2 linked regions of the Homo sapiens genome follow. The protein of the gene in region 2 binds, or shares a complex with, the protein of the main gene of each other region. Each region holds a gene or a part of one and is shown on either strand. Other genes may lie near its edges. A codon is read from its position in the direction of its gene.

What was found.
Region 1: the proteins of TMPRSS15 (region 2) and PRSS1 are in contact, whole or in part, in a cryo-EM structure (PDB 8ZIV), measured with the Homo sapiens proteins. Residues at the interface, in NP_001414986.1 of Homo sapiens: Tyr276, Thr277, Ile279, Trp297, Glu298, Leu316, Glu318, Asp320, Glu321, Ile369, Gln370, Ser372, Phe374, Pro376, Phe377, Ala389, Gly399, Pro400, Gly401, Gly402, Arg403, Glu405, Glu432, Asn433, Lys485, Ile486, Leu487, Val513, Pro514, Thr515; in NP_002760.1 of Homo sapiens: Phe18 (codon at 2,060), Asp19 (codon at 2,057), Asp20 (codon at 2,054), Asp22 (codon at 2,048), Lys23 (codon at 2,045), Ile24 (codon at 2,042), Val25 (codon at 2,039), Tyr45 (codon at 1,979), His46 (codon at 1,976), Phe47 (codon at 1,973), Cys48 (codon at 1,970), His63 (codon at 1,925), Cys64 (codon at 1,922), Tyr65 (codon at 1,919), Lys66 (codon at 1,916), Arg68 (codon at 851), Ala91 (codon at 782), Lys92 (codon at 779), Arg95 (codon at 770), His96 (codon at 767), Arg101 (codon at 752), Lys102 (codon at 749), Leu104 (codon at 743), Asn146 (codon at 617), Tyr175, Phe188, Leu189, Glu190, Gly191, Gly192.

Annotation. Positions count from the first base shown.
Region 1 is NC_000007.14:142,736,516-142,752,625, reverse strand, and holds the start of PRSS1 (serine protease 1 preproprotein), read right to left. Parts: upstream 3,155-16,110; 5' UTR 3,142-3,154; coding exon 3,102-3,141; intron 2,072-3,101; coding exon 1,912-2,071; intron 853-1,911; coding exon 599-852; intron 196-598; coding exon 59-195; intron 1-58. UniProt on the Homo sapiens protein: Has activity against the synthetic substrates Boc-Phe-Ser-Arg-Mec, Boc-Leu-Thr-Arg-Mec, Boc-Gln-Ala-Arg-Mec and Boc-Val-Pro-Arg-Mec. The single-chain form is more active than the two-chain form against all of these substrates.
Region 2 is NC_000021.9:18,272,165-18,288,295, forward strand, and holds part of TMPRSS15 (enteropeptidase isoform 2 precursor), read right to left. Parts: intron 9,058-16,131; coding exon 8,876-9,057; intron 6,896-8,875; coding exon 6,800-6,895; intron 3,173-6,799; coding exon 3,033-3,172; intron 1-3,032. UniProt on the Homo sapiens protein: Responsible for initiating activation of pancreatic proteolytic proenzymes (trypsin, chymotrypsin and carboxypeptidase A).

The sequences.
Region 1 (16,110 bases), on a different chromosome or scaffold from region 2:
CCTGGTGGGGCCTAGGTATCAGTGGGAGCCTCAGCATGGGAAGGGTTGGTCAAATCACCTGACATGAATCCTTGCCTCCCTCAAGGAAGCCCACACAGAACATGTTGCTGGTAATCTTTCCAGGGTAGGAGGCTTCACACTTAGCCTGGCTCAGCACAGGAGCATCCAGGCACTGCAGCTCGTCTGGGTAGTCGGCTGTGAGGATCAGGAAGAGATCAAAGGAAGTAGAAATGTGGGTCAGGCCAGAGAAGGAGACAATAATCTTGGATGGAAAACTGAAGAGGAACACAGCCCCTGGAGAGGACTCCAGAACATAAGTCCTGGCAAGAGACTCTGGCTTTTAGTTCCCAGAATGATCATTGTTGAACCCCTCCCAAGATGTGATCATATCAAGTTCTCCATTTGTCCTGTCTCTTGATTTTAGGAGCCAAGTCCTTGATAGTTTGCATCTCTCTGGTGCCCAGTGCAGAGTCTGTGTGTAATGGGCACTCGAAATGTGTCTTAAGCCTGGAGGTGAGAGGATTCAAGTTAAGGGGCATGGTTTGTTCTGGAAATTGTGAGGATGGAGGGAAGTAGAAGGACTAAGGGTCCCACTCACCGCCAGAGCTCGCAGTGTTGCCCCAGCCAGAGATGAGGCACTTCGTGCCAGTGGCTGGAGGGGCGGTGGGCAGAGAGATGGTGGACACGCGGGCGTTGATTACTGCACGTGAGGAGAGCTTGATTAACATGATGTCATTGTTCAGAGTCTTCCTGTCGTATTGGGGGTGGCGGATGATCTTGGCTGCATTGATGAACTGCTCATTCCCCTCCAGGACTTCGATGTTGTGCTCTCCCAGTCTCACCTGGATGCGGCTGATGGGCAGGGCAGGCATGGTGAAGACCTTCTCCCACAGCCAGGGCACCTATCCCACCTTCCCCAGGTTCCTCAAGCTCTCTGCTCATGGACAGCTCTGGAGGCATGGGGTGGGGTGTGTGGCCATATCGCATGGGCAGCAGAGGGATGTGGGTCAGTGAAGGTATGAGACCCAGGACCTATCTGCTCCAGAGGTTGGTGGTAGTGGGGTGGGGAAGAGTCAAAGGGATCCCACCAGAGGCTGCTCCTCAACCTGCCTCCCCAGACTCTTTCCCACAATCTCCACAGTCACTAGCACTGTGGGCACAAGGAGCTCCTTGAAGTTTTCCCAGCGTTCTTCACCCCAGGCCTTTGCCAACTGTGCACAGTGCCTGTTCCTCCCTCCATTCTTGGCCTGGTGAGAACCACCCTTCTGTGTAATCTAATCCAAGGGTAGCCATAGCATTAGCATCTCCTGGGAACTTGTTAGAAATGTGAATTCTTGGTCCTTACCCCCACCTACTGATCAGAACCTTGGGGAAGGGGCCCAGTGATTTGTGCCTTAACAAGCCTGCAGGGCGTTCTGATGCATACTCAGGTTTGAGAGTTCTTGGTGTAGGCAGCAGTTCTCAGCTCTGTCTATACACTCTACAGTTAGCAGAGGTAGAGTGTAAAATTCTCACTGATATTCACACCCTCTTCCTGAAAATTTTGACTTAATTGCCCTGGGATAGGACAAAGGCATCTGTATTTTTAAAAAGTCTTTCTTAGTTGGCTTTAATGTGTAGCTAACCAGCAAAAGATACTTGCCTGCTTTTCTCACTAGCTCTCACCACCCCAAGATCATCCCTGCCTGCTTTTATGACCACAACCCTTGCTGTTTCATGGATTTGCCTGGGTGTGAGAGGTTCCTGTCTTGTGTTCACTCTCTGCTCTGGAGAGTCCGCAGCTGCCAACAAGTTTTCTTCTCCACCACCTCTCCCATCCATCTTACCCAACCTCAGTAGTTCCCTGGGCTGAAGCCAAGCTCTCCCAGGCAGACTGGCCGGGAGCTTTGCAGTCGGGGGCCCCACACTTACGACTTGTAGCAGTGGCCTGCTGATACCACCCACTGTTCGTTGATGAGGGAGCCACCACAGAAGTGGTAGCCAGAATTCAGGGACACCTGGTAGGGGACAGAATTCTCCTCACAGTTGTAGCCCCCAACGATCTTGTCATCATCATCAAAGGGGGCAGCAACTGGAGTGGAGATGGGAAGGGAGAAGGCAAGTCAATAGCATGTTAGGGGTGGCGCTCCCAGCCTGTGATTGCTTTCTGCTAATTAGAAATCCTTAACAAGCACAGTGAGGCTAGGCAAGGGAGGGAGCTCTGCCACCCCTGGTGATCATCACTGCCTGTGGCTCCCAAGTCTCTGTGCCTGCAGGGCACATAGCTAGGTACCCTGCGGAGGATCCGAGCTCTCCTGGGGTCACCAGGCTGAAGTCGCAAGGAATGTCCTCACAATGCTTCCAGTGGGATAGGAGTTGGGATGTGGTTGTCTCTCCCACTGAGTGCTTCTCTCTTTTATTCATCACCTGTGTACTTCCCCTGGCTATTTGGGCCCTGGATTGTCAGGATTCTTTTGCCAAGCTAGGAAAACCCCCTGTCTGCATAGACCTGGCCATGACCACCTTCCCCCATAGCTCAGATCTGTGCAGTCAGGGCAGAGTTGAGGGCAGCCCCCAGGCTCACTTTGGCAGAACAAAGGTAGACTTTGTTATTGGCCAATAGGACAGCAATTCTTAACCTTGGCTGCATGGCTGGAAATATTAAAAATCACCTGGGAAGCTTAAAAGCCCAGAACACAAGCTCTACCCCAGACAATTGAAGTTAGAATTTCTAGAGCTGAGTCTCTGGCATGAGTAATTTTTCAACCTCCCCAGGTGCATTCGAGGTTAGGAGCAGCTATAGTGGTGCTATTCTGTTGCTGTTGGAGCCAAGCCTGAAGCCTGCTGCTTCATTTCGTGGGACAGCCCCACCTGGCCCCCTTCCCAGCTTCTCCAACCACAACTCGGATATGGATGAATGACAGTGGTGGGAGTGAAGTCAAGGAGAAGGTGAACAGGTGAGACTTAAAAAGAGCCCAAGGAGGATGGGAAGGAGATATGCCAGATGGAGGAAACGGAATATCAGAGCACAGTCAAAAGAGGAGAGGTGGTAAGAATGGAAGGGCATTTGTCGGCCAGGAACGGGGGGGTGGTTGGGGCCTGAGGCAGGGCATGATACTCACGAGCAGCTGCCACAAAGGTAAGGATCAGGAGTGGATTCATGGTGGTAGAGTGTGCCTGACTGGTGGTGGAGGACTCGTCTTTATACCTCACGAGGATCCAGAGAGGAGGTGACTGTGAGGTGAGGGTCACCACTCCTCCCAGCACAAACACACCTGCAGCTTTCCTCTTCCCAGGGTCTTGCATCAGCCTGGCTATGTTTGGCCACTCTCTGGGTTTGTGATTCACAGGTGATAAGGAAACTTTCCTTCTGAGAGCAGAGAGCGAGACCGGCTGTTTCCTGCAAGGATACTGGGATGGGGAAGACAGGGAAAGTCAAGCCCCAGATAACAGAGCTGGGCTTTCTTAGGCCCTGGAGATGAGGGTTAGAAGGAGGGAGAATGGCCTAGCTGTTTACAAATCTTTCCACCTATTGGGAATGTATTTAATGTACTTAAGGAAGGGCAAGCATTGGTAAAAAGCTTGGATTTCAGTTTCCTGGGGCCCACATGAGAGGAGCAAAGTCTTATCTAAGGCTCATTCCTGTGAATATGAAGATGCTTCTCTCCAGTCAGTGTGCAGGAAGGTCAAATGCAAGATTTTGGGGAATGAAAATTCCAACACTAAGGGGTAAGGAGAAGGGAGACTCAGCATTCCATAGGATTCTGGGCTTCCAGATTTCTCTCCTTCCTACCAAGGCTTAAGGATGGGAAGTGTTTCAAAGAAGGAGGGGGCACAGTTTCTGTAGGAGCTTTCTCAGTGCCTCTGGAGGATGGAAAACCAATGGCGCACTCCTCCCCTTCTTCAATGTGAAGACATTTGTCTCTCTCATGTGCATCCTGTCATAGGTTCTTTTTATGCAGCCTCACTGTTGTCCTTGCAATCTGCACTCAGGTGATGCAAACTGACCCACCTGCTCAGGGCTGACAGTCTGAACCAGAATGATCAGATGATCATTTTCTATTTTCGATGCAGTGAGATTATGCTTGGCTCAGTACAAAGTGAATCTTCCTAGAGAATATCCTGATTTGGGCCCTACCAAGGCTACTAAGACACAGTTGTGTAATTGACTGAGGCACAACCTGGCCAGAGCAGTGTGGAAATGGAGATGCTGTCTGTGCTCAAGTCTAATGATGTAGGGAAAGGAGGAGCTTCCTTATGAGGGTGCTTTCCCTTCTCAGCAACTCTGAGCTCAGGCTGGTGATGGGCAGGAGTAAGTAGAGTTCAAGTTTGGATTCTTTGAAAGGTAAAAGAAGCAGAAATGTTCTAGAGACGGTGGACAAAATGGGAAAAGCTCAGAAACTTGGTGTTGAAATCGGACCTGGCCAGGGGGCTAGAGGGAGGAAGCAAATGGAAACCAGAGGGAATTGGAAATAATGCCAAAGTGGGGCCCATGGTGTTGAGAGGACACACAGAGTACCTTCGGTTTCAGCTCCTGGTATGGCTGCTGAGCCAGCTTCCCCACAGCCAGGAGACCCACTGCTTGGAGACCCCCTCTCCGCCTCGCACCCCCTCTAATCACTAATGGGCCCATACCTAACACTGCTATGCTTAGATGGTGCACAGTGCCTGACAACTTTACAAGAGTTTTCATGTAAGCAACAGTGGTACATTACTTTTCATTTATGCTGAGTTTCACACTTTAACTTCCCACAAACATGCTAATTGTAATTTGTGCAGAGCAAAATTGTTTCCATTTATAGAGCAAGAGACTGAGATTCAGAAGGATTCTGTCTTGCCCAAGAATACAGATCTTGGCAGAGCTGACCATAAGGCCAACAGAAGCCATGGAGAGCATTGTGAAGTGTGGGAATTTCATCTAAGAGGAGGTATCTAAAAGGAGATTTATTGAGGATCAAGACAGAGGTCCCTAGAGGACAAACTGTACATCTGATTCCTTCCTGGTGCTTTTCTTCCTGGTAGAAATGGATGATTGAATTTATCTTTCTCCTGGCACCTAGTCTCAGAGCATTACCATGCCACAGTTCGAGACCCATCCAGGCCATGACTGCCATGTAGATGACAAACTTCTCTGCTCACGAATAACTTGCCAAGCCTGAGGTAGCCAGGTTTTGGAGCATTGATAAAATGGGCTTTTCCTTTGTTGTCCCTGAACATGTTGTTTCATTTTGTCCCTTGTCATGGGGTCTTCACAGAACACCTGCCTTAGAGGATAAGGAGAGACTCCTGCTCTAACAACTGTAGATACTAGTGTGCACTAAACAGGGAGGTGAACCTTGGTAGAAGATGGAAAATTTTTTTGGAAAAGGGGATTTTTGGATCAGTGCTTGTGGCTCTGACTCTCAGTCTGAAAGGGAACACCCAAGAATTTGAGGATTTTCTGTATCTAGAGCTTGAAGACTAGCCTTCTCCAGTATTTTGCGCTCTTCCTTAAATGATCGCAAAATAGTCTGAGGTCAGCTTTCTTCAGAAAGGAATGACCTTACAGGCAGAGAAGATAGCTATAGGTGGAGACTGTTACCTCATACTGTAGACTCAGATGTGTAGGATAGGTTCAGATCCAGCTGCCAAAGCTCAATTTGGAGGACATGTCATTCTTGTTACTGTTCATTCTGAATTGTAGATTTCTTTGTCTACTTCTCAAGACATCTCTCTGGCTTGTATTTAGTGCTTAGCACACTAAACCACTTTCCTTTAATTTTGATAACAGTGAGTCTTTTCTGTGTGCTTACTATATACCACATAACTTACTCTACAGCATGTAACTCATGTAAGTTAAAAATGTTTTTTTCATTTTATCATCACAACCACCTATGGGATTGCCCATTTTACAGATGATCAAATGAACTTTCTGGAGGTGAAGTGGCTTGCTCAAGGCCACACAGCCAGGAGGTTTTAAAGATGGGATGTAAGTATGGTGGTCCGACTCTAGGGCCTCCATGCTGTGCAATAGGGCATTCTGCTTTGCCTCCTCTGAGCTGATCCTTAGTGCAGCCTCACTGAGGTGGTAGGCAGCAGATATTGTTCTCTCCTTTTTACAGATGAACAATCTAAAGCTCAGAGGTCAAGTGTCTTCTCCAGGGTTACTTGTCTAAGGAAAGCAGAGATCATACTAGAAACTTCCCTATTCAGACAAAGTTTGTTCCCCTTCATGTTGCTACAGAGTTGCGTCTTTCAGACCTAGTAGTCTGCAAACTGTCATATTCCAATTTTATTTTTTAACACTTTCTTCTCCAAATCCCACCAGATCTTTCTCCTACATTCTTACTGATCTCCTCCTTGGGTTCCAGTATCTTTTATCGTTCCCCAACCAGACTGTCAGATTTTAGGCTGTCTTACCCCCAAACTCCCAGCTCCTCTCCTCATCCATTTTTTTTTCTAAGCTACTTATCTCCCGCACAGCACAATTTCTCTTTATCCAATAAGGAATTATTTTCGTTACTATATCATCCCAGGAATCATTGAATCTGGAGAGTGAAGGGAGTGCTCTGTGTGACTCGGAAAAGTCTGACTTGTAAGATGGAGTCCCAGAGCATGAACTGGTCAAGGCTGATCAGCTAAACGGAGTAGCCCATTCCTCCCCGCCTGCCTCCCGCCCCTCCTCTTGACTGCCTCTTGCCCCTCCTTCTGCCTGCCCAGCTGCTCCCCAGCTTGAAGCCATGGAAGACATGCAAGTTTTATGCCCAGAGGGAAGTTTATAGTTCTGTTTATTCTTCAGGCTTCCATGTATGGGTAAATGGGGAAGCCTCTAGCACTTGACACTAAACCCACAGTATTTTAAGGATAGATTGATTGCTCTAATATAATGGTGAGTCTTTCTGTTCACATTTCAGCCACTCCTTGACCACTCTCTTGTTTGGCCTATTAGAGCTGCTTAAGTGAGTCCAGGCTCCCTTAGACAAGAAGCAGAAGAAAGCCAGGACAGAGTGCAGGAGAAACACCCATGTAGGTTCTTATTATTGTAACATCTAGGATCTGTTTCATGATACTCAGAGTTTAATATATGATGTATGCATTTATTTTTCTAAATTATGCTAGCTCTAGACTGAGGCTCACAAGCTAGGTTTGGTGATAAATCCAGTCAACTGGGTTCCTTCTACTCATGTAGTTTATAAAAGTCTAGACTGTGTCATCCATTTGGAAGGCAGCCAATGGGTCAGTCATTTCCTCAAGATCATCTTGGCCAGGAGGGCCTTCAAAAGGCTCCTAAGGCTCAGAATTGAATGCTCCATCCACACAGGCACCAACACAATTCCAATTGAGAACTTTCCACCCCAGGGCCACTGTGTTTGAGCAGGTTCTGCACTTTGCCTCTCTATAGAACCCATATCATCTGTTCCATTTCCCAGTCTTGGGTAAGGCAGCAGAACGGGGTTGGCACATGACATATGGACCTTTCTATTCAAATACAATGCTTGTTATCTGTAGTCCTCCTACAGTTCTGTAAAACACTGGAACTTATTCCTCCTATCTAGCTGTAATTTTGTGTCCTTTAATCTTTTTGTATCCTCCCCGCAACTAAAACATAAATTTAAAACAAGAATAAAAAATATAAAGTTTGAAGTGCTTATTCCTTTCCTGTTAGAATAATCTAGTTAATTTTCTTATGGGCTTAGATTATCTAAACTCAAATGCCTTTGTAGAGTTTTCCACCAGGGAAATCCACTGCAGCTGTATAAATTTTCCTCTTATCTTTGAAATGTATTTATTTACTCACAAATATTTATTGAATTCCTGGAGTGATATTCCAAGAGTTCTTCTAGGCTATTTGGAAGCAGCAACGAAGAAGACAGAAAAGGTTCTTGTTTTCAGTGCATTCATGTGTGCATGTGCATGCATTTATGCACATATGAGGAGGTATAGAAATGGGATGCACATACATCACTTTCAGTAAATGATGAGTACATATTACTAAAATAGGATAAAGTGATAATATGGCATGACTGCTGAAGTGCTGTTACGTAGAGTGGTCAGGAAAGGTCTCTTTGGGGAGGTGGCATTTAAGTTAACACCTGAATAAAAAAGAACCAGCCATCTGCAGGTAGACTTAGGGCTTTCATGATTTCCTTCTGAGTCTGCAACAGAAATAATTCAACGCACACAAACAATTGCTATTTAAAATTAAATAACCCTGTCATCTAGCCTATGGATATATACCTTGTCATGGGTTTTGATTGTATGAAGGATGGTCATCAGTATATCGAACTATTCTTATTAAAGTTAATGTAAAATATTTTTGACATGAAATGATATTCATGAAATATTGTTGGGTTAAGGGAATAAATTCTAAAACTACATATTGTATGATCTAATTTTATTAAACTGAGTGATTTTGACTTTTTTATTTTGATAATATGCATATTTTATAATACCACAAATTTTTTATTTAATTAAAATAGCTAAAAGAGAAACAATTGTAATGATAAAATTTTCTGAGAGAGGGCCATACTTATTCTTGAGGAAGGAATTGCCAGTGGTAAAATATGTTTTTATAGTGAGAAATACGTTTAGGTAGCAACTACACTAATTGCATATTTTGTCTCTATGTGCTTTTTATACAGATAATTGTATCACTTTCTTATTTTAAAAAACCTACATTTAAAAACTCACTATTATTCTTATTTTCTATGGAGAAATTAAGGCATGGAGAAATTGTGTAACTTGTTAAGGTTACACCTAGTGTTAAAGCAGAAGAACCAAGTTTTAAACTTAGGTCTGTCACTTGACAAAGTTCAAGTTCCTAACCACAGTGCTTTACTGCTTTTAAAGAGGCAATTTTGTAATATAGGAAGGTGCTTCATAATCCAAGGCTTCACTGTAGGTAAATTTGTCAACTTCCTATGGTAATGGGAGCATGGGCCAGGAAGGTAAGCTAGCACTGAGCCCATGAGATAAAACAGGTATACATGTGCATTCCTGTGACCTGGAGAATTAGTACACATGGAAACTGGAGAAGGCCCATGAGACCTTACATGGACCAGAAACTAGACAGGAATCACTGCTTTTTAAAGTGAGGTACACAAAGAGATACACAGTTAGTGAAAGGATGAGCTAGAAAACTAATCCTAGAAGCAATTAACAAAGAATATTATTTGTCTTGGTCTTGGCTTTGGGTGAAGGATTTTAAAAAATTTCCTCTGAATATTCATGGTCACTGAACAGTCAGCCCATTGGGGTTTGAGATAGACATTCTATGACCAAGAAGATATATACTGAGAATTATAAAATAAAATGATATTAGGTCTGTAGCGCCCCAATTTCTTGACAGAGGCAAACATGAATTTTCCTAGAAAACCCACTTTTACTCCAGTATTTAAAGAATTCTGAAAGATGAATTCACATTAACTTACATAATGTACAAGGAAATAGGCTACCCTGAGTGAGAGCCAGCAGACCACTGAAAGCCAGATGCAAAAAGGCATCAAATGCTGGCATTGTCAGATAATAATTCCCAGTAGATGCTTAATATACTTATAAAAAGAAAATAATTTTAAAATACACAAGGAACAAGATGCTTTCAAAAATGTCCACTCATATTTGTAAATGACCCAAGTGGATTTTCTAGAAATAAAAATTAATATAATTTAGATGAACAAAGTCAGTTGAAAGATTAAATTAGAGGCTTACTGGAGCTGAGGTGTGAATTAGTAAACTAAACAGTAGTTTTAAAGAAATTACCCAGATTGTAGCATAGAGAAGCAAAAAGAAGAAAAATATGACTGAATAGGTAAGGAGACTAGATGATAGTATGAAAGAAAATTGAACATAAGATATAGCTATACTTCTGGCCATCTCTTCTTCAATAAAATGTGGACAACAATCAGGTATACCAATTTAAGTTTTGGCCCCGAGAAGATTTCCCTTCACCACTACCTTTCAGAACCATACTTGGTTAGACTGTAATGATCCTTCCAGAATAATGTGAAGACCCATCAAAAAAATAAGCTCATGTTTCTCAACTGGAAATATGGAATTTCCATGAAACTTGGGTGTGGTTTGAAGGTAAGAGGAGAAAAGTATGAGTGGGTAGCATGAGACTCTGAGATGTGCTCTTGAAATTGAATCGTGCCTTTTTCCAGCTGTGCTTAAGTATGGTCTTGATTATGTATTTTCCATTTAATAACAGAATGCTCTGGGCACAGCCAAATTTACAGTTTTGCAGATCAGATAATACCTTGTTCTGAATGCCATTATGAGGCATCCATTATAGAGCCAGGAGCAACTTTTCAAAAGAAAGGGGATCGTTGGCCGGTAAGAGTATGGCTTTACACCAAAACTCTGCACCTGTCTGCAGGGCAATTCTCCAGGTGGCCTTGGACAAACTCAGTACTCCCCTATTTCTTGCTTGTAGTTCTCAAAAATAACTGTACAATGTTCTGGGACTGTAACATCCTGAGATAAGGAGGAACTGGCCAGAACAGCCAGGGCTCTGTTCCAGTCCCTTCTAGAAATAGAATGTCCTTCAATGCTTTGCCAAGCATGTCAAGTTGCTCTAAGATATAAAACCCAGGGTGGCTGCTCTCTGAGGTCCCTCAGTGGCAGTGCAAGTAGGGAAGGCACAGACAAGATTTCATCCACCCTGGGCAGCTTTCCTGAGCCTAGTGGGACTGGCTTTCCCTGAATCTTAGGCCTCTGTTTTCCCTTGCTGCCTGTATGTAAGTAATAAACACTCCTCATGTAATTTGTGTGTGTGAGCATTCTTTCTCTCTGGGATCTGGAAAGCAACAAAAGTATAGCCCAAGATGCAATGGTCTGAAGTGCAAATCAGGGCACAGCAAACCTGTTCCACACTGCCTTGTGATTCTCGTATTGGGGAATGTCAGGAGCTCCACAGGGCATCAGTATCTACCATAGGCTCTTCAAGAACAACTGGGTCTGCTTAGTCCATGGCCCAAGCAGCAGGAAGCTTTCATCATGGGCTTCTTCTGCCACAGAACCCTCTCTTGCACTGGCCCCAGCTTTACAGATTACATAGTAAATGGGATAGAGTAGCACAATCAAATGCAGTATATCCAAAGTTTAATTCAAAGTCCAAAGACTAAGCATTGCACCTCTTTCTCCGTGGTACATGATCTAAGGTGCAGCAGCTTACTTCTTACATCTGGACCACTCCAAAACTCACCAGTATAGAAGGTTCCTGAACTTTGCAGATTTTATATTGGCCTGGGATGCATGTGTCATATTGTCATATTGAAGCATCTAGAGGGCTTTATCATTCCTATTCACTGAGAACAACCAGATGTCATTAATATAATGTACCAGCTTTGTTTCAAGATGACTAAAGTTCTTCCAAAATATATTATGATAGAAAACCAGCTAAAAAGAGCCTTGAGATAAAACAGTTAAAGGCTATTACTGACCCCGCCACTTGAAGGAAACTGTATCTGATTGTTTTTATTGGGTATTTCTGAGCACCCTTCTAGAAGAAATTTTACCCTCAGCTTTCCAGGAGCCACTCTTCCTGCCTGTGGATAGAACGCTCCAGCTAGTCCTACAGATGCTCTCCTCATCCCCAGTCTATCCATTCATACCCATGCCCACCCACAAACACAGAAACAGCTGTGTCTGCCCAAAAGCTGTGGTTTCCTCCTTCTGTCCCACCTTGGCAGGGCCTTCAGGCTCGTGTGAGAGGAGCTGGGTAGGAGAGAGCTGAGGTTCTTGCTCAGATCTTTGATCTGTGCCCCGCACTGTGTCTTCAACGCTGCAGAGATATATGCTGCTGTCTTCAGGGCTCATGTTGCTCACAGTCAGAGTTGAGAATGTTAGGTTTGGGCGGCTGATGGGAAACTTGTCAATGACAAATCCACTCTCATATGTGGCCTCAGAGCCCTGATTTGCAGTTGCGATCAGTGTCAGGCTCTGTCCAGGTTGCTGACGGTACCAGAACATCATGGTGACTTGGCTATCGACTTGACACTGGATCGTCAGGGAGGTTCCACGTTGACAGATATCCCTGCTTGGCTTTTGAGAGATGACAGCACTGAACACAGAGCCTAGTTCCAGAGAGATATTCATGAGGACCGACAAGCTTGGGGTCAGACATCTCCCCAGGCAGGAAGGTCTCTGCTTTATCTCTCCAATACCACCTCAGCTCCCAAAGGACCCCAGGGAACTGCCTCCTTTTTATTGTGCCAACAATTACTCTGTTATGGTTCTTTAATCTAACATATCCCCTTCATCTTCTGTCTGGTGGCTTCAGACTCTCTGGAGAGAAAGTCTTTCCACCTTTCCACCCAGTGTTAACATTAACCCCAGACTCCTCAAAAGACAAGGCTCATACCTAGTCCCAGGAGAAGGAGCAGAAGACTCAGCATCTTCAAGTGATGGCCTCTCCCCTGAGAAAAGGCACTAAGAAGTGAAACTCAAGTTCATCTTTCCTTCCTACAGCGTAGTTCCTTCCCACTCTGTTTCCCTCCTCTAACAGGTGGTTGAGTTTCTGCATGATATGCAAAAATCAGTCTTCCCCCTGGTGGAACCGTGTGGCTCTTCACTCAGGATGAGTCTTCATGCACAAGTCTCACAGCATGCACCAGCCACTCACCACCATTCTCCCATCACTTTTCCATCTGTCATTACTGAACACCAATCTGTGCTACTGTCTGGGTGTAGAGCAAAAAGTGGGGTGCAGAATTGACTTCAAAGAACTAAAAGTAATATGTTAGAATATAAGGGAACTTCATTACAGTATTTCAGCTGTCTGCTGGGTCTTCATGGTTGTCCCAAACTGAACTCCTTCCTCCCCCAACACGTACACACACCAATAAACGGGCTCTTATTCCTCAATTCCCCTCTCCCAATAAATTGCATCCCTGCTCTTCTTGCATGTTAGGTTCAAGAATTCCATAAGCCTCTTTTTTCCTCACCTACCTTATTTGTCAATTCACAAATTAAATGCATTGTCTCTTATATCTCTTCCCTTGTTTCAGTTATCACAGTCATAACTATTTTTTTTTGTCTTTGCTTAATTCCTGAATACTTGTAATATGGTTTCTTCTATTCTAATTCAACTCAGTCTAGGCCACGAAACAGATCATGTTTGTGTAAAACTTGACCACAATGGTATGATCTTTTTCCATTATCAAGCTGATTTCTCGTATCATGTAACTGCTTAAAATAGTTTATTTTTGCATAAAAGCAGAGCTAAGTTTTTGAGCACTTACTCTACTTTTCATACATTTATTTAAGTCTATTTTTTTGGCTAGGCTATTTATTATCATCACACTATTTTTACGGATTAGGAAATTTTACAGATAAGACCTAGAGACCTTAAATAACCTATCCAAGTTCATATAATCCAAGAGTAAGTAACAGAGTCAGGACTCAAATCAATGCCTATGCGATCACAAATCTCAAGTGTCAATATCAACACTATCAAGTATTGTCTGACTCTTGCAGTTGCCTGTGCCTTAGTAAAGTACAGTCTGGTGGGTAACTGAGAATGATAGGCCTAACACTCTAAAGAATACTAGGAAACTCCAGAAAGACAGGCTTGCAAAAACTAACCCATCTTATTTATTTGATTCTGAGATTCTCTCTATTATAAGATGTTCTATTAAATATCTAATTGTTACTTTTGGGTGGTGTTTAGTACTACCACATTAAAGGTGAAGATTGATTATAGGACTTACCCGTATTTCAAAGAAAATAGAATTGTGAAAAACAATTTACCTTATAATGGACAAAATGTGACACTTTAACAATATTTCAGCAACTTGTTCATATGAGGAGTGTGTGTGAAGCCTTTACAACTTATTGGACATGCCACGGACAGTGGCTCAAGATAAACTCTGCTAAGTAGAAGTAGTAAAAGGTATAGAATACTTCAGTTTTTCTTGACATGTAGGTATATTTTTAAATCTTTTAGTCAAGTGTATCAAACTCTATGCCAAAATAACCCAGCATCTTTTTCATTTTATTTATCCTAAAAGCTTCTGAAAATTAACAAATGATCCCTATTCTTTACTAAATTCCAAATCTTTGTTTCTTCATCAGTATTCTCTTTGTTTGGAAAACAAAAAACAAAAAACAGCAAACATATTCCTCTCCCTTTTCATGCTTTTCAAACTGCAGTGGTCTCTAGATTTTTCTCTCGGGGAATGTTATGGATACTAAACTCTCATTGAATTTTAATGTGTTTATTTATTGAATTAATACATGCACCTGGTTAATGATTCAATTATAACAGAGAACAAAAGGTAAGTTCCTTCTCCAGAGACAGTCTTGTAATTATTTTGCTACATGTTCTTAGAAATAATAGTTCTTGCTTGTTCAAGTTTATGTAAATCTGACTCCTCCTTCTTTTACACAGAAACACACAGCCCAAACCTTCCTGTACTTCACTTCTTTAATTAGCAATGTGGTTCTTATCAGCATATTTCAAAGTTGATTTTATTAAAAAATACACAGAATCATGCCATTATTTTCCATTTTATTATGAGAATTTTCAAACATCTATAGAAGCTGAAACTATTATACAGTGAACATGCATGTACCCACCGCCTAGGTTCTGGATAAAACTGTTACTGCTTTACCACATAACTATCCATCTATCCATCCTTCTATTCATCCATCAATCCATCTAATTTTTTAATTCATTGAAAAGTCAGTTGGAGGCATACTTCACTTCTAAGCAGTTCAGCACGTGTATAATTAACTGGAGTTCAAGGTGTTTTTCAGGTAAAATTTGCATACAGCACCACACACAAATCTTGAATACCGTTAAACAAGTTTTGACAAATGCATACACTGTGTAACCTACCAAATTGTAGAATATTACCATTATCTCCAAAGTTTTCTCATGCCTTTAGTTTTTCCCACTGCTAACTCCTTAGAGGCAATTAGTGTTCTGATTTTTTCATTATAAATTATTCTTTTCTAGAATTTTATATAAATGGAATAACATCATACGCTCTTCTGTGCAAAGTTTCTTTCACCCAGAATAATGGTTTTAAGATTTGTTTACTTCTTTCACCCAGAATAATATTTTTAAGATTTGTTCAAGTTGTGTGTATCAGTACTTCATTCCTTTTTGTGGCAGTGGAATATGTAACCATATAGATATACTACCGTTTGTTTAGCCAGCCTCCTGTAGATGGACGTTCAAGATATCTCCAGGTTTTGGCAATGATGAATTCACTTTCTGTAAACATTCCAGTTTAAGTCTTTTTTTGTAGATTTATGCCTTTATTTCTCTTAAGTAAATACTTAGGAGTATAATTGCTGGCTCATAGGGGTAGATGATCAGAGGGGTTTAGTTTTATAAGAAACTATTAGAACATTTTCCACATTGGTTGTACTATTATCCACTTTCATCAACAATATATGTGAGTTCTGGGACTCCAAATTTTTGCCAGCATTTGGTGTTGCCAGGTGGTTTAACTTGAGTGGGTATGTGGATGGTTAGCGGTATCTCATTGTGGTTTTAATGTGTATCTTTTATTTGTCTGCCCTTTTGCCAGTACCACATTACTTTGATTATTGTGGGTTTATAGTAAGTCTTGGTCAGACAGTGAAAGGACTCCAAATGTGTTCTTTCTAAATATTGTTTTGAATATTCTAGAGTGTCAGGAGCTCAGCATAGCTGAAAAAGAGTGCTGAGGACTTAGGTACTCATTTTAACATATTTATTCTTTTTAAAATTTCAACTTTTATTTAGATACAGGGGGTACACATGCAGGTTTGTTACATGGGTATATTGCATCCAGGTAGTGAGCCAATTAAAGCAACAAGCCCCAAAGGAAAGAGTTAAATCTTTAATTACCTCCTTCAATAGTGTAAGCAAGAGTCTAAAGCCAGAGAAATTACTGACTCCCCCTGTTCTGTTTTTCCCTGTGGAAATGGCACTGGTCAAGTGTTAGTTGGATTAGCACAGACATGGAGTTGTCTCACTGTTGGGGAGCCCTGCAAGGAGAAAGTGGAAACTCACTGGGTACTCAGAGTGGAGAAAAGTGTCTTTAAGGCTCTCTCTTCCTCTCCTATTAGGAGGCCTTGACAGAGGCACCTGAAGAAGACCTCTACATAGGCCTCAGAAAAAGAGACCTAAGAATGAAGGATCCTGAGCTGGCAATATAA
Region 2 (16,131 bases):
AATTTACATTCCCACCAACACTGTAAAAGTGTTCCTAGTTCTTCACAACCTTGCCAGCATCTATTGTTTCTTGACTTTTTAATAATCGCCATTCTGACTGGCATGAGATGGTATCTCATTGTGGTTTTGATTTGCATTTCTCTAATGATCAGTGATGTTGAGTTTTTTTTTCACATTTGTTGCCTTTCCTTAATTTTCTGATTTGTTCAGTGAAGATATTAATATTTCATTCTTCCACTGTCTTGGAGATATATGAGTACTTCAAAAATATGCATGGGACCCGGTGCGGTGGCTCACACCTGTGATCACAGCACTTTGGGAGGCCGAGACGGGTGGATCACCTGAGATCAGGAGTTCGAGATCAGCCTGGCCAACATGGTGAAACCCGGTCTCTACTAAAAATACAAAAAATTAGCCAGGTGTGGTGATGGGTGCCTGTAATCCCAGCTACTCGGGAGGCTGAGGCAGGAGAATCACTTGAATCCGGCAGGTGGAGGTTGCAGTGAGTGGAGATCATGCCACTGCACTCCAGCCTGGGCAATAAGAGCAAAACTCTGACTCAAAAATAAATAAATAAATAATAAATAAATACATACGTAAATAAATATTTTTAAAAATATGCATGAATTTACAGAACATAAAGTATTAACCTTAAATTTATGTTTCTAGTGAGATGCTATATTTATAAGTAAACATAAAAATCAGTACCTTCTTTGAGTGTCTGAGTGCAAGGGTTGGTGACCATTTTTGTTGAGAACATTACTTCTCATACTTTAGTGTGCATCAGAATCTCCTGGAAGATGTGACAAACACACATAGCTGGCCCCACCCTCATAGTTTCTGATTCAGCAGATATGTGATGAGCCCTGATAATTTGCATTTCTAGCAGGTTCTCAGGTGGTGCTGCTGGACTGGAGGCCACGCATTGAAAGCCATTGGAATAGAATATGGCTTGGAATGGTAGGTAGAGTGTCAGTCACTAAATTTTAGGTAGAGAAGATATTCTTCAGCCATTGGTGTTGCCTTGAAATCCAAACTACTACCACTAAAAGGCAAGCCTTTGGTAAGTCAGAAGTTGTGGATGACTAATAAGGCACATTCTTTGCCACTGTAAGGCTAAAAAATGATGCTTCAAAGAACTTAAATAATGTATCAGTAATAACGTGTTCACAATTTTAAAGAATGCATTCTTATTTAATCAGTTAATCCTGTTATAAAACATAGTATTAAAGTTGAACAAAGAAAATCATGTGACAGTCTAGTGTATTAATTACTCAATTATGATAACATTTTATTATACAAGGTATTACCTTATGTGGGAGACTTCTTGCTTACCAAGGAATAACATGCTTAGACTGTGTAGAATCAGAGCTAGCTATAAGATTTCAGAGACCTGGCATGAGTTAATGACTTAATGTAACCCTAAAATCAATAGCATCAGCCGTCATATTTTCTGCCTAGTGCGTGAGGTGTCTGCCACACAATCCCCATTAGCTGTAATTGAAGTTGTCCAGCTGATTTCCCTTCTGCGCAAGAATTCTATAGATCTCCTTCTAAGTGGCAATATATCTTACCTTTAGCACACTTTTCATTTTAAAAAAGAAGTATAAGACCCGAAGATAAATTTTAAACAAGAAAAAAGCCATCCTATTTGTCTTGAATTTGCAAGCATTTATCAAAGCAGAATAAATGTAAAACTAAGCTGGAAGTTTAACACAACTGAAGATATTGATTTAACTAGAGGACTTACATACAGATGATCTGAATAAGCGTCAATTTAGATGGCTCGTCATGTATTGATAGTATGACATATATGTGTTAATATATAAAATAAGTTGCTACACTTTAACACAGTGAAACCATTTTCCTATGACATAAACTGCTATTTCTTCATTTAGTAATTATTCGTTTGGTCAGTAATGCTAGCAGGTTTAATCCAGCAGACATTAAAGCATTGATATGTTATTAATTTTCAAATATAGAAAATATGCCAGAAAATTTATTTACTAAGCTTCATAATAAAAACTGTTAACATTTTTGAGTAATTGCTCGATGCCTTACATGGGTTATCTCATTTAAACCTCTCCATAAACCCTAAGTCACTTGCCCAAAGTCTCACCAATAAGTGTTAAAGCCAGGATCAAACAAGAGTAGTCTGAACATAGAATCCATGCTCTTCATGACTACCCCATGCTGTACCTAAAAATTAATTACAATTCTAAAATCTAGCAGAACTTCCCTTTTTATTTATTGTGTGTACTTGGATTTCATGGCGCTAATAGGAACATTACTCTTAGGTGGCAAGATATTTCAGTGAAGTTACTACGTGGGTAAGAGTTTTTTCCTAATGTCACACAGGTCAAGAGCCATTGACACTTCAAATTTATTGCAATATTGACATTAGCACTACAGCAAGTTCAAGTTACTACATTTCTAATATACAGTGTAAACGATAATATAAAAGCCAGAGCCAGGGTTATGCCAGTCTATTAAGTTATTTACTTCCCCTTTGGTTAGCTGTAAATTGACTCTAACGAGGCTATGCAGGTTTTCATCAAGAAATTACTTCAGGTTACTGCACGCCTGGATGATATTCTAAATTCAGGGTTGAAATTTAGAGGCCCACAGACTAAACTGGCCCTCAAGCCCTGTTTTTGTTTGTTTGTTTGTTTTAAGTTTGCATGGGGTTTAAAATAATTGGAAATTTGAAAAGAAACTGCTTTTAGATAAGGTGCACACTTTCTGGCTCAACCCAGGTCCACTGCTCATTTTAGCTGGCTGCCTCACACATTCAAGTATTATGTCTAGTCTCCAAAAGCATCGATTTGTAACCTATTTTCTTAAAAAATAATTTTTGTTTCCAGTGCTCAGGTCTACCCAAGAGGATTACGCAAATAGGCAAAAAGTAACAGTTTTGTAAAAGAGAAATGAAAGAAGCTTATTTCTTTACTCCCTAATTATTGTTAAGCAATGAAATAACTATAACACCAGTGCTTTCTGAAAAGGTACAGTGAGCAGTTTTACATCTTTACCTGACAAGAATCTATTCCTCCTTCTTCATAGCCTGCACATATCATATTTTCAGTAATGTTATATTCTGGCATCTGCTGTTGGCATCTCTCATTTGATAGAAGAGGAACATCAGCTTCTTGCAATATGTTTGCAGTAGTACCTGCTCAAAATGGAGAATGCAGCCAGCCAGTCAGAAGTGATCAACATGCATCCTTGAATGAACTACCATCAGTCCTATTTATTCCAACATTTCACTCTCATTATCAAGTACTGTGTATATATAATGGAACTAAATACTAAACCTTGCACACTAAAGCACATAATAAAGCCCATCTGTGGATTGTGCCAAATGGATAACAGGAAAGCTCTTCTTTTTTACCGAAGGGCTAGTAGGAGCGATGGATTAGACTAGATGGTCTTTGGGCATCTTCTGTGATTTTAAACAGTTACAGGATTGCTCATGGGGGAAAACGCTCCCCAACACAAAGTGTTTCATTCATGGAAATTAGCAACAGCTCAGAAATCCAGAAGTGCTTTTCATTTGGCACCTGAGGAGGTGCTCGCTTCTGTATAATAGCATTCAGCTTCTTTGTGGTGCTATGTGAGTGAGCAGGTGCACATCGAGCAGAGGACAAAGCTCAGATGAACTATGCCCTGGTCTAGGGGCAATCAGCTTGTCATGCATACCCAGGTGAAGAGAAAGGAGGCATTTAAAAAAATAAAGCAGAGTGTACTTACCTGCTTTTTACAAAATGATTCATCCACTAGAAGTACGAATCTCTGCTGAAATACTAATCCCAAGAGAGATGTGAAACAAGCAGGTGTCTAGTGCCCCAGAAAAGGTACATGATAAGCACTTTCTAATAATTAGCATTTCTATTTTGTTCCTCAAGAGAGGCAGAACGTTGAAGAGAAGTTAGTACATTTGACAGCCATTGATGCTGAAAAAATTTATGTGACCTCATTTCTAGCTAAATTTAATTCATGCACTAAAAAGATGAAGGAAGCAAAAAAAGTGTGTTCGTGCACACGTGCACGTGTGTGTGTAGTTAAATGCAAAACAGATATATATGACTCAGTAGTGCATTGGTAAATGTATATCAATTTTCTCTCCAGAAAAATGAAAGCCCCATGGGCCTTCCTCTCATTTTACTGATGTAAACACTTCCACAATGATCAATTTCAAGGTACCAGCATGGCAGTGAACATGGAGTAAACATTACTAGATAACTTTTCAAGTTTGACAATGGACTATAAGAAAATGAATTGCAGAGATTAAAATGGAGGAGAAAATTTGGCATCTCACTGTTATCCATTCTATGAGGATCAAGGATGGCTTGGCAGACTTTAATTTTACAATAAAAACCAAGGCCACTTCTGCTGCTTGTCAATGATTTAAAATTTGTTTGGTAGATGATAAAACTGTTTGGTAAAGGAACATTTGAGCAGTGTCTGTTTACTGATTGCCTTGATTTAACCAACTAGTATCACCTCATTTCTTCCTAGTGAACAATATGTTCATGGTTTTCCTAGCTAATCAATTAGTATAATATACTCAAAAGATTGAAAACTGGGATTCTTTTTTTTTTTTTTTTTTTTTGAGACGAAGCCTAGCTCTTGTCCTCCAGGCTGGAGTGCAATGGCGCAATCTCGGCTCACTGCAACCTCCGCCTCCTGGGTTCAAGTGATTCTCCTGCCTCAGCCTCCCGAGTAGCCTGGGATTACAGGTGTGTACCACCACGCCTGGCTAATTTTTTTTTTGTATTTTAAGTAGAGACGGGGTTTCACCATGTTGGCCAGGCTGGTCTCAAACTCCTGACCTCAGGTGATCTGCCCGGCTCAGCCTCCCAAAGTGTTGGGTTTACAGGCATGAGCCACCGCACCCGGCCAGAAAACTGGGATTTTATGAAATTAAGTAGATGGAAGTCATAAAGCAAAGTTCATAAACTACGTGAAACTTACCATCACTCAAGAAATATTTAAACATGATCTAGCTGTTTATTCCTAAATGAAATTGATCTCAGATACAGTTTATTTCCTGGCTCCATACCACTCTTAGAGACTTTCTTAAGTTAATCAGACATATATCTTTAGTAACAATAAGTAAACGTAAGTCACATTTACTCAGCTTTTAAAAAAAATCCAAAAACAAAAAAAACTTCCTATGAAATAAAGAGTTTCAAATTTTGTTATTGGTTAATTTGTTTTTGAAGAGCCTACACTGTGGTCATAAAATGTCTTTTAGCTTGAAGTCTGAAAAGAGAAAATATCTATCTAGGAATCATTTTTACTGTTTAAATTTGAAGTTTAATAAATCATAATATTTTTCAAGAGGGAGAAATATATGAATATACAGTCTTTGACTTCAATATACTTGATGGACAGCAGACATGAGGCATTTTCAGCAATACAGTGTCATTGCTGTGAAGAACTTTTGTAGGAGTTATCAGAAAAGCATTTGACTTAGAACTTTGTGCTTTCTCTTATAATAGGTAACGACATTTTAAATGTGAGTACTTTGATTCTGAGACCCTCTACCTTTCCACAAGATTTTCTGCATTTTCATCTTAAATACATTTAGGACTTTTAAACATCATGGCTATAATTTGTTGTGACTGCAGGGATCAGGTTCTCTTATCAGACTACAGAGCCTTTTCTGGTGCTTTATTATTTATGAGTGGTTAAAACTCTGTCCCAGCTAGGGCACTCCTATTAGAAATTCCACAGCCAATGAGCCTTGTGGTTACATTTAGAGGGTATGAAGTACGAGAATACTTTTCAAAAAAAAGTATGATTATTTTTAATATGTATGATTTCTGTGTTTGGAAAACATGCAGTTGATGCTGGGGGTGAATGGTGTATCAACTGATGGATACAATGTAAGATTCATGTCAAATCTGAGCCCTCTTGTCAGTAAGCAGAATTAGCATGTTCAAGTTACAAGAGATTCCATTCTCATTTTAAGAAAATGTTGAGTGTGAGGCCTTCACATTATAAATAAAGATAGTTTTATTAGTTTGGAAAATGTGACAGGTAATAATTTGGCTTTTGATGAGACTTTATCATGTGCTTTACAAAAATAAATTTTTGTAACCCTAGTTTATATTCATTTTAATGAGGCTTTTAAGTTTATCAGAGTGTTTATAATACTAAAACTAGATATTGAGGTTGGGGACACTTGAATTCCCCGTCAAAAGAATATAGTTTTATAATATCTTCTATGCAATCTGAAGAAATTTTTAAAAACTCTACAAATATATAGGCTGGGCGCGGTGGCTCACGACTATAATCCCAGCACTTTGGGAGGCTAAGGCAGGCGGATCACGAGGTCAGGAGATCGAGACCATCCTGACCAACATGGTGAAACCCCGTTTCTACTAAAAATACAAAAAAAATTAGCCAGGCATGGTGGCAGGCGCCTGTGGTCCCAGCTACTTTGGGAGGCTGAGACAGGAGAATGGCGTGAACCCGGGAGGTGGAGTTTGCAGTGTGTCAAGATGGCGCCACTGCACTCCAGCCCGGGCCACATTGCGAGACTCCGTCTCAAAAACAAACAAACAAAATCCTACAAATATAAAAACTCTGCAAGTATATCTTTGAAAGCTCTACAGATACACAACTCTAAATATATATATGTACATGCTTGACGGTACTTTTAGGAGATATTGAAAAAACTGTTATATAAGAATTGCAAAGATGTTGAAAGCATTCACAGGATATTATGACAGTCTGTTTTTCACCAGTAAGGTTTTTTTTTTTTTTTTTTTTTTTGAGTCTGATAATTTACCTTGATATACAACCGTCCCCCAACCAGCAATAGAACAATTTCTTCCTGGAGGAAAAACTTGATTTTCTTCCGGTAAACAAATAGGTTGTATGTAATCTGGAAAAACAAGCAAACAGCAAAACGAACAAACGAAGAAAAAGAAAGAACAGATTTACAAGCATTTCTAACAAGTTTTAAAAATCAATAACAGTTAATCTAAAAAACATGTATTTTTTTTTTTAATCCTACCTGTAAAAATTTTAGACATCGGTCTTAGGGGAAATAGGCATTTCAGAGCAGCACTTTTTGACAATAGATCGGCTACCACTGGTGGCCCTTTAGGGTCTTTTACTAGTCTCCTCGTTACTCTTTTTTTTTTTTTTTTTTTTTTTTTTTTTTTTGAGACGGAGTCTCACTCGGTCGCCCAGGCTGGAGTGCAGTGGTGCGATCTCAGCTCACTGCAAGCTCCACCTCCCAGGTTCACGCCATTCTCCTGCCTCAGCTTCCCGAGTAGCTGGGACTACAGGCGCCCGCCACCACGCCTGGCTAATTTTTTTGTATTTTTTTTTTTTTAGTAGAGATGGCGTTTCACTGTGTTAGCCAGGATGGTCTCGATTTCCTGACCTCGTGATCTGCCCACCTCGGCCTCCCAAAGTGCTGGGATTACAGGTGTGAGCCACCGCACCCGGCCCTCATTTCTCTTTTATAGTGTAAAAAATGTCTTAGTTCTGGAGGTAATCATTTATATTTTATTTTTAAATAAAATTATGGTGCTCAATAGAAAGTGGTGCCAGTTCTCTGAAAATTATGGTAAGGATGATTTTCAGCATCAATTAATAGAAATTTGGGCAAATGTTCTGAGACTTTTTTATTTTCCCCAATTATCACCATGTTAAAAAAGCTTTTAGGAGATTGTTTTACAGGGCAATTATGGAAGCATTGACATTGGTCACTGACTTTTAAAGCCCTTCTTGCATCAATTTACAAGCCAACTGGCACCCTTAAGCACCCACTGCATGTAAGACCTAGGGCAGACACAAAAATGAATAAGACACAGTGCTTATCCTTAAGGACAGGGATATACAACTAACCGTAGCAATAGTCTGCTTTTGATAAGTGCTGTAATGCATGTATAAATCAAACCCCATGAAAACACAGAGATGGCAGCACTTTCTCCTAACCGGGCACTGAAAAAGACTTAGGAATAAAAGTCAGAATTGAGCAGAGCCCTTCATGATAAAATTCACTTTATCAGGGGATTTCTTGCACATTTTCCAGGCATTTGGAGGAAGTCCTTCATTTGTCACTCAGATAATATTATCGAATCTCCATTAAAAACTTCATCCTATGAAGGCCGGGCACGGTGGCTCACGCCTGTAATCCCAGCACTTTGGGAGGGCAAGGTGGGTGGATCACAAGGTCAAGAGATCGAGATCATCCTGGCCAACATGGTGAAACCCCATCTCTACTAAAAATACAAGAAAAAAAATTAGCTGGGCATCATGGCATGCACCCGTAGTCTACCTGGGAGGCTGAGACAGGAGAATTGCTTGAACCTGGGAGGCAGAGGTTGCAGCGAGCCAAGACTGTGCCACTGCACTCCAGCCTGGGCAACAGAGCGAGACTCCGTCTCAAAAAAAAAAAAAAAAAAAACAACAAAACAACAAAAAACCAAACTTCCTTCTATGAATAACTTAATTCTTGCTCACTTTCCCCACAGAACATGTGTTCTTCTCTCAGTTTATGTCTTACTCTGCTTTTTGGTAGATGAACCTACCTTTCTTTTACATGAAAAATAGAGAGGGCATGCATAATAACATCATCTATTTATCTGAGCTTCTCCTTTGAGTTTACTGTTATACAGGGCTCAGAGAGTTTTATTCTACTGGTTCTTTCTGGAAAGTTGAATTTAAACATCCTGATGAAAGAAATTTAATATATTTCTCTCTACTCCCTAATCCCATTTAAGTTCCAATGATTTATGTAACAAATTATCTAGCTTTTATGAATTAATGCATTGACATTGATAATATTTGAAATCTAGTTTTGAATTAATTTTGGCAGATAAGATGACTAAGAGTGATTTTTTTTTTTTACCTGTGTAATTCACTTTAAATTCCAGATGCATCATGGCAATGTCGTTGTCCTTTCTTCGCCTATTGTAATGAGGGTTTATGACAATTTCATCTATTAATCGAGGGACTGTTTGAGGAGAGGTCAGATTTGATTTCATATGCAGGCCTAGGATTGCTGTCCACTTGGATGGCTCTAAGTTTCTCCTGAAAATTGTAATGAAGAAATATGAGACACTCTCCATCCAAAGCAGTTCCTTTCTAGAAGATCTTCATCATGACATTTCAGAATATGTTTCTATCCTGAAATGTTCTTTAATTTCTCTGAAGAATCATCCTTTAAAAATATTCTCAAATCTTTATTTTTCTGATCACAACATAAAGAAAACCCTAATTAGTGCTAATCTCTCTGTTTCACTCCTCTTAAGTTATATGCTGAGCTCTAGTTCTAGATTGTGGTTCTCAACTGTGGTTGTACATTGCAATCTCGTGAGGTGCTTTTAAATAATGCTGACACCTACTTCCCCTCCTCCCCCGATTCTAATGTACTGGGTCTGGAATAGTCCACCAGACAATTTAAAAAATACTTCTAAAATTAAATCTCCAAATTTGTGCTACTATATATAATATATGGCTAGGTTGGAGAACCTCTGCCTTAGGTCACATTTCACTGTGGAAATTGTGTCCCTGTTAAGGGCTTTTTCAGACAACTGTAGCTAGCAACTGTAGTATAATGGAAGGAAGTTCAGATGCATTTCCCATTTAGAGAGTCATTGAATTCACATATAGTTAAAGTAAACAAGCCAGGCGCGGTGGCTCACGCCTGTAATCCCAGCACTTTGGGAGGCCGAGGCGGGCGGATCACAAGGTCAGGGGATCGAGACCATCTTGGTTAACACGGTGAAACCCCGTCTCTACTAAAAATACAAAAAATCAGCCGGGCGTGGTGGTGGGCGCCTGTAGTCCCAGCTACTTCGGGGGGCAGAGGCAGGAGAATGGCGTGAACCCGGGGGGCGGAGCTTGCAGTGAGCCGAGATTGCGCCACTGCACTCCAGCCTGGGAGACAAAGCAAGACTCCGCCTCAAAAAAAAAAAAAAAAAAAAAAAAAAAAGTAAACAGTATGCCTTATTATAATTTTTATAATCTAACATATAAACTTGAATAATCTCCATATACAATGTTGGCCATCTATAATAATTGGTAAAGGATAACACTTGTGTTGTAGAACAGATTAAATTGGGTAGTATATTATAATTTGAAAGTGTGCAAGGACTTTTAAATGTGCTATTGGCCTGCGATTTCTTCACACAAAGGAATTATCAGCTGGAATTAAGCCAGTTAAGCCATATTCACAATGAAGGTAAAATTCAATGGTTGCAATCCTAGGCAGAGCTATTGATTCAATTCTTAACAGTCGCAAATGCCTCGTTTAATGTGGTATTTAAATATTAAAGTCCAAGTCACTTCCAGATGTATAAAGGGCATGAAGTTACTTACATCTATCTATCACTTTGTTTTATTTACCAAATTACTATGTTTGGTCAGGTAGCAGTCATCAGTAAAGCCAGTGAGCGTCCAAGCATTCAGTAAAGCATCCACTGACAACCACATTGCATTAGAACTTGAAGAAATACACCTAAGTGCTCTGTAGCAACAAAATACTACTTGGTGCCAAGTGCAATACCGAGAACTTTTGTATCTCTTCATTTAATCCTCATCATAATTTTACAATGGGAACAAACTAGGCGCTGATTATCTAAATGGTAGGAGGTGACTTTAATTGGAGCTGTCTGACTTTAGAGCCTGCACTTAACACCAGTGACTGGGGTGCCTCATACAGCTCTGAGTGGGGTGCCATGGGAGGGATTGAGAACTAGAAGGAAGGACTGGAGATGTGGGGGGCAAGAGGGAGAGATAAGCTCTGCTGTTGCTTTCCCTGCTCCCACATAGGGGAAGTTATCTCTGCTCCTAGTGGTTGGTGGCAGCTCCTTAAGTGGCTTAGAGACTGGGCCAGGAGGTCATTATGGTGCTGTACAGGCTTGACAAGAGGTCTTCGTGCTTTCTCTTCTCCAGGTCAGAGGAATCTGTACTTCAGCCATGCTTGGCATCTTGATAATTTCAGACAGCACCCCACTTCCACTGTACCCTGGGATTCCCGTGTCTACTTTAGCCTATGTAGGGAGAGTGAACAGAGCCAAATCTCTTCCCTGGTGTTCTGTTTCTGAACTTCTTTCTCTATCACATGTTAAGTATATTTCCTAAAGCTCAACTGGTCAGTTTTCACTTGAGTAGCCTGCCTGTTAAGACTGACAGGTAACAAGTAGTTACTTTATTTTAAAAATTGTATGATTTTTTTTTTACTCAACATTTACCTCACACATTCACTCAATATTTACAAAAAATTAATCTTACAATTACTATACCGTATGTTTTGTGTTTGGCATTTTATTAAATTTATTTATACATCATATTCTCTGTTATATTCATATAACCAATGTATTGTAATAGTATTTATAATTTATAGTGTATGTATATAAATTATCTATATAAATATTACCTATATTAATGAACTATTAATATTTGCTCACAGTGTATGAGATCATTATATATAAGTTGGAGTTAACAGAGGACATGTCATTATTAAAAATTATAGGATTGTCTCCTCAGGTGTTTTATACATATTTTATCTTCAGAATTTTTCATATAGAAGTTCAGAGAGGTGCATGCAGTTTATTTGATATAGATTTAAATAAATGTTAAATTAAGGTATTTCAGAGAAAGAGCATCTAAACTCCCAAATTCTTCTTTGTAAATACTATACTTTATCTGAGAACTAATCAACATAATCACTGATATGAGAGAGCTTGTAGGTAACATAGTTTAGTAATCATCACTTCCTTTCATTATTTTAAGGACTTGAGTAGAAAACCAATATATGAACCAGGAACGTGCAGATTAAATATACGTGCTTCAAGCTACTCATCTAATTTAATACAATTTACAACAATATTAATCTGACACATTCTTGATAATTTCCAAAATTGTTTATTGTGCCACATAGAAAATAGCCTCTCTTTCATGTTTTTATTACTTCAGTATCTATGAGCAGCACCATGGATAGGAAAAATTCCGCCGCCATGTATCATTTACATCTTTCCTTCAAAGAGAAAGGCTGCTCCACAAACCTTTCTGTCATGCACTTAACTTCCCCACCACAAAACCAACACTAGCACAAGCACCACCAGTACTACTCCATCTGGCAGTAATTTTAGAGCTTTTCCTCGGTGGAAAATGACTGGAGAATACAGAGCTTACAGCCAATAGTTCTTAAGTTCTAGAGCCACTTGAGGAAGTTTCTAAAACTTTAGATTTCTAGTTTCCATTTCCAGAAATTCTAATTTGGAAAGTTGGAGTGGCACTCAACAATCTGTACTTTGTAATCACTGTTGGGATACTGAGCAATGCAGAAAACTTCCTAGCTTTTTTATATACCCAAATCTGAGGGGCAGGTGAAGACAGCCTTCAGAAAAATCATTTTAGATGAAGAGATGGGACTTTTTATGTTTTTAAAATCTGGTCTCAAAGCATCTCTTTTCTAGTAAAGGAAGGAAGAGCTATAGCGCTGAAGATAGATGGGCATAGGAGAAGGTGAGAACCACCTGGAATAGGAAATCCCCAATCCGGTGGAGGATAAAGATCGCAAAGATAGGGCATCTTCAGATAGAAGTTGGCTGAATTTACTTTCGGAGGCCGAGGCAGGTGGATCACCTGAGGTCAGGAGTTCGAGACCGTCCTGGCCAACATGGTGAAACCCCGTCTCTACTAAAAATACAAAAATTAGCCAGGCGTGGTGGTGCACGCCTGTAATCCCAGCTACTCAGGAGGCTGGGGCAGGAGAATTGCTTGAACCCGGGAGGCAGAGGTTCCAGGGAGCTGAATTTGTGCCATTGCACTCCAGCCTGGGTGACAAGAGCAAAACTCTGCCCAAAAAAAAAAAAGAGAAAAAAAAGAAGTTGGCTGAATTTTTGCTGCATTTCACCATCTGTCCTGCACAAGCAAGACATTTATCATAGTAGCAAGAGAAAGAGAAGCACAGCAGGTTGGAGAGGGCAGAAAAACATACACTCCTGGTCTCTGTAACCCCAAAGATGCTTCTTTGAAAAAAAGATGCTTTTTTCCCATTTCCTGAGATGCAGAAGCAGCACCAGATAAGATGAACTAGTGGTACCTCAGATATATGTGGCAATGTGCTGATGTGAAAATAACTTCACCACTCTAGGCATCAGGATGTCCATTTGTAAGTGGGACTTTCAATGCAGTAGAAAGCAAATATGGTAAGACAGCTATGATAGAGCATCACAACAGGCTGAAGGGAAAATAAAATCAATGGGAATCCAAAACTGTAAATTAAAACCTTTTTCCTGTTTTACTATTACTAAAGGTGGCACAACAGCAACCTCAACAACTTTGCACCATGCCAACACTGATGTTTACACCCAGCACAGCATTTTTGGTCTCTATTTTTATTCTCCTCTGAATGTAATGAGGATTCCTAGATGGCTAGCCAATTCGAATATTTAAGGCAACTGAAAGTTAGAATGTTTCTGAAACATAGTGTTGTTGCCAGAGAGTACGAAAGTTTTCAAGAATATCGGGCAATTCTGAAAGTACAAAGAAGCCAGATTAAATGAAATAACACTGGCGAAGTTTTAGCAAGGTGACTCTCATATAATGATCATTATCATTACCACAGTTAAAAGAAAAGAGTTGTTTATGAAAGGCCATGTGTCTGCAATGAAACTCAAAAGAGAAAAGTTAACAGGTGCAAAAGGTAGTTTTATTATAAAAGGAGGGTAGGCAACAAGAATATGTTTAATTTTTCTTCCTTTTCATGAGTAAGGACAAGAGTTTCATATATGTGAATATTTTTATTTAATTTTAAGTAGAAATCTGTTTTTAAAATATGGGTATATGCTTATTTGTGTAAGTGTAAGAAACAGAAGTAAGTACAGCAAACCAGAAATAGGCCAAACACTCCTGAGCATAATTTTACTTGGTAGATTATTCCTGAAACTTAAGGAATCATCTTTGAACTCTTTTCCTCACTTGACTTCCAGGATTCACCATGCACTTGTGATTTTCCTTTCATTTCACTCTCCGTTCCTCCTCAGTCTTTTTTTCTCCCCCAGGTCTTTTTTGTTCATCTTAAACTCTAAATTTTAGAATATCCCAGGGGTCTGCCTTCGGCCTTCTCTTTTATATCTACACTGGCCTCATACATAATCTTAACCAAGTCATTATTTTAAATACCTACAATATACTGAAAACTTCTAAATTTGTATTTTAATTCTTGACTTCTTCCATACAGTCTAGATTTGTATGTCCATAGGCTGACATCATTGGCTGATACCAACTTGGATGTCTAATAGGCAGTCCCAAGCTTAATATATAAAAATCAGAACTCTCACTCTCTTTCCAATCTGATTTCTTCCTGTTTTCCTCATCTCAGTAAATGATATCAACACTCACTCCATTCTCTTTTCCTTACTCCATATCTGTGATCATTAATAAATGCAGATGACTCTAACCATCAGAACTTACTAAAAAGATCCAGCCACTTCCTCAGCTTCTTCAGCTATGGTCCTAACTGGTGTCCCTGATTTCACGTTTGCTCCTCCCAGCAGTCCCATCTTCACACATTAGCCTGATTGGATAAGGTCACTCTTTGGTCCTCCACATGGTCCCTCATCCTATTTACCTATTTAGCCTCCTGAGACCTCTCCAGGGCTCGATCCATAGTTCCAGTCTCGTCACTGCCGCTCTGCCAATCCCCTTCTGGGCAACAGCAGCAGGGCTTTTTGAGGTGTCTGGAGTAAGTCTACCTCACTTCTACCCCAGAGCATCAGAGTTTGCTGTTACCTTCAAAGAAATTTGTGTAACATTCTCCTTCATTTCTTTAGATTTTCCTTCCATTTTCAATTGGTCTGTGACACTTTCTCCAACCACTGTATCGAAAACAACCTTCTTGCTCTTATCATATTTTCTGTTCATACTACTTTTCTTTACTGCATGTATCACTGCTAAAGTATTTATTTAAATGTTTTTCAGCCTTAACATGTCATATAAACCTTATCAGAGGAAAGATTTTGTTGGTCTGTACAGCACTATCATCTCCAAACTTAGAAAACTACTTAGCACAGGATAAGTGCTCAGCAAATGTCATCTGATTGAATGGATATATAAAAAACAGTAAGCAATCCAAGAGCAGGAAGGAATGAATATTACCAGTGGTTCCTCATAACAGCCAGGTAACGGGCAGAGTTGCGTATCAATCCACATAATTTCACTCTCTGTTCTTCCTCAGTCTTCTCCCACCCCACCCAGCTCTTTTTTCTTTTTAATGTTTAGAGTCTCAAACTCTAAATATTAAAATATTCCTTCTTTGTGTAACAAGTGGTTATGCAAAATAACTAAGAAAAAAGGTGGCTCAACAATGTGATCCAAGATGATGAATTAATTATCAAAGTAGAGGTAACTTGAGAGATACGATAGAAACTTTTAGGAAATGAAATTTCTGAGTGCACTAATAATTATAATGAGATACATGCCAAAGAGACATATGTTATTAAATAGTGGTAATAGAATGGTGTCAAGGAAATGGATTGCACGATATAGGTCAAGAGAGACTTACAGGAAACACAATTTTACAGGGAAACACAAGGTTGGAAGTTGATATAACCTCTAATAAAGACATAAATCTAAAAAGTCTTAGTGATACAGTAAGATAGTATTAACTTTTAGGAAGATGACTAGCACTCAAACTTGAAATATTTTGGAAAAGGATCCAAGACCTAAGCTCTAACCAAAGTCAATATTACTAACCTACCCTTGAAATCTCTACTGTCTATGACTATTTATCAGAGAACTAAGAATAGAGCTACCATTTGATCTAGTACTCCCACTGCTAGGAATCAATCCAAAGGAAAAGAAATCAGTGTATCAAAAAGATACCTGCATTTGTGTGTTTATAACAGCACTATTCACAATAGAAAAGATACTGAATCAACATAAGTGTTCATCAACAGACGACTGGATAAAGAAATGTGGTATATATATGCAATGAAATACTATTCAGCCAGGAGAAAGAATAAAATCATGTCTTTTGCAGCAACATGGATGGAACTGGAGGCCATTATCTTAAGTGAAACAACTCACATGCAGAAAGACAAATTTCAAATATTCCCACTTATAAGTGGGAGCCAAATAATGTATAGTGGACAT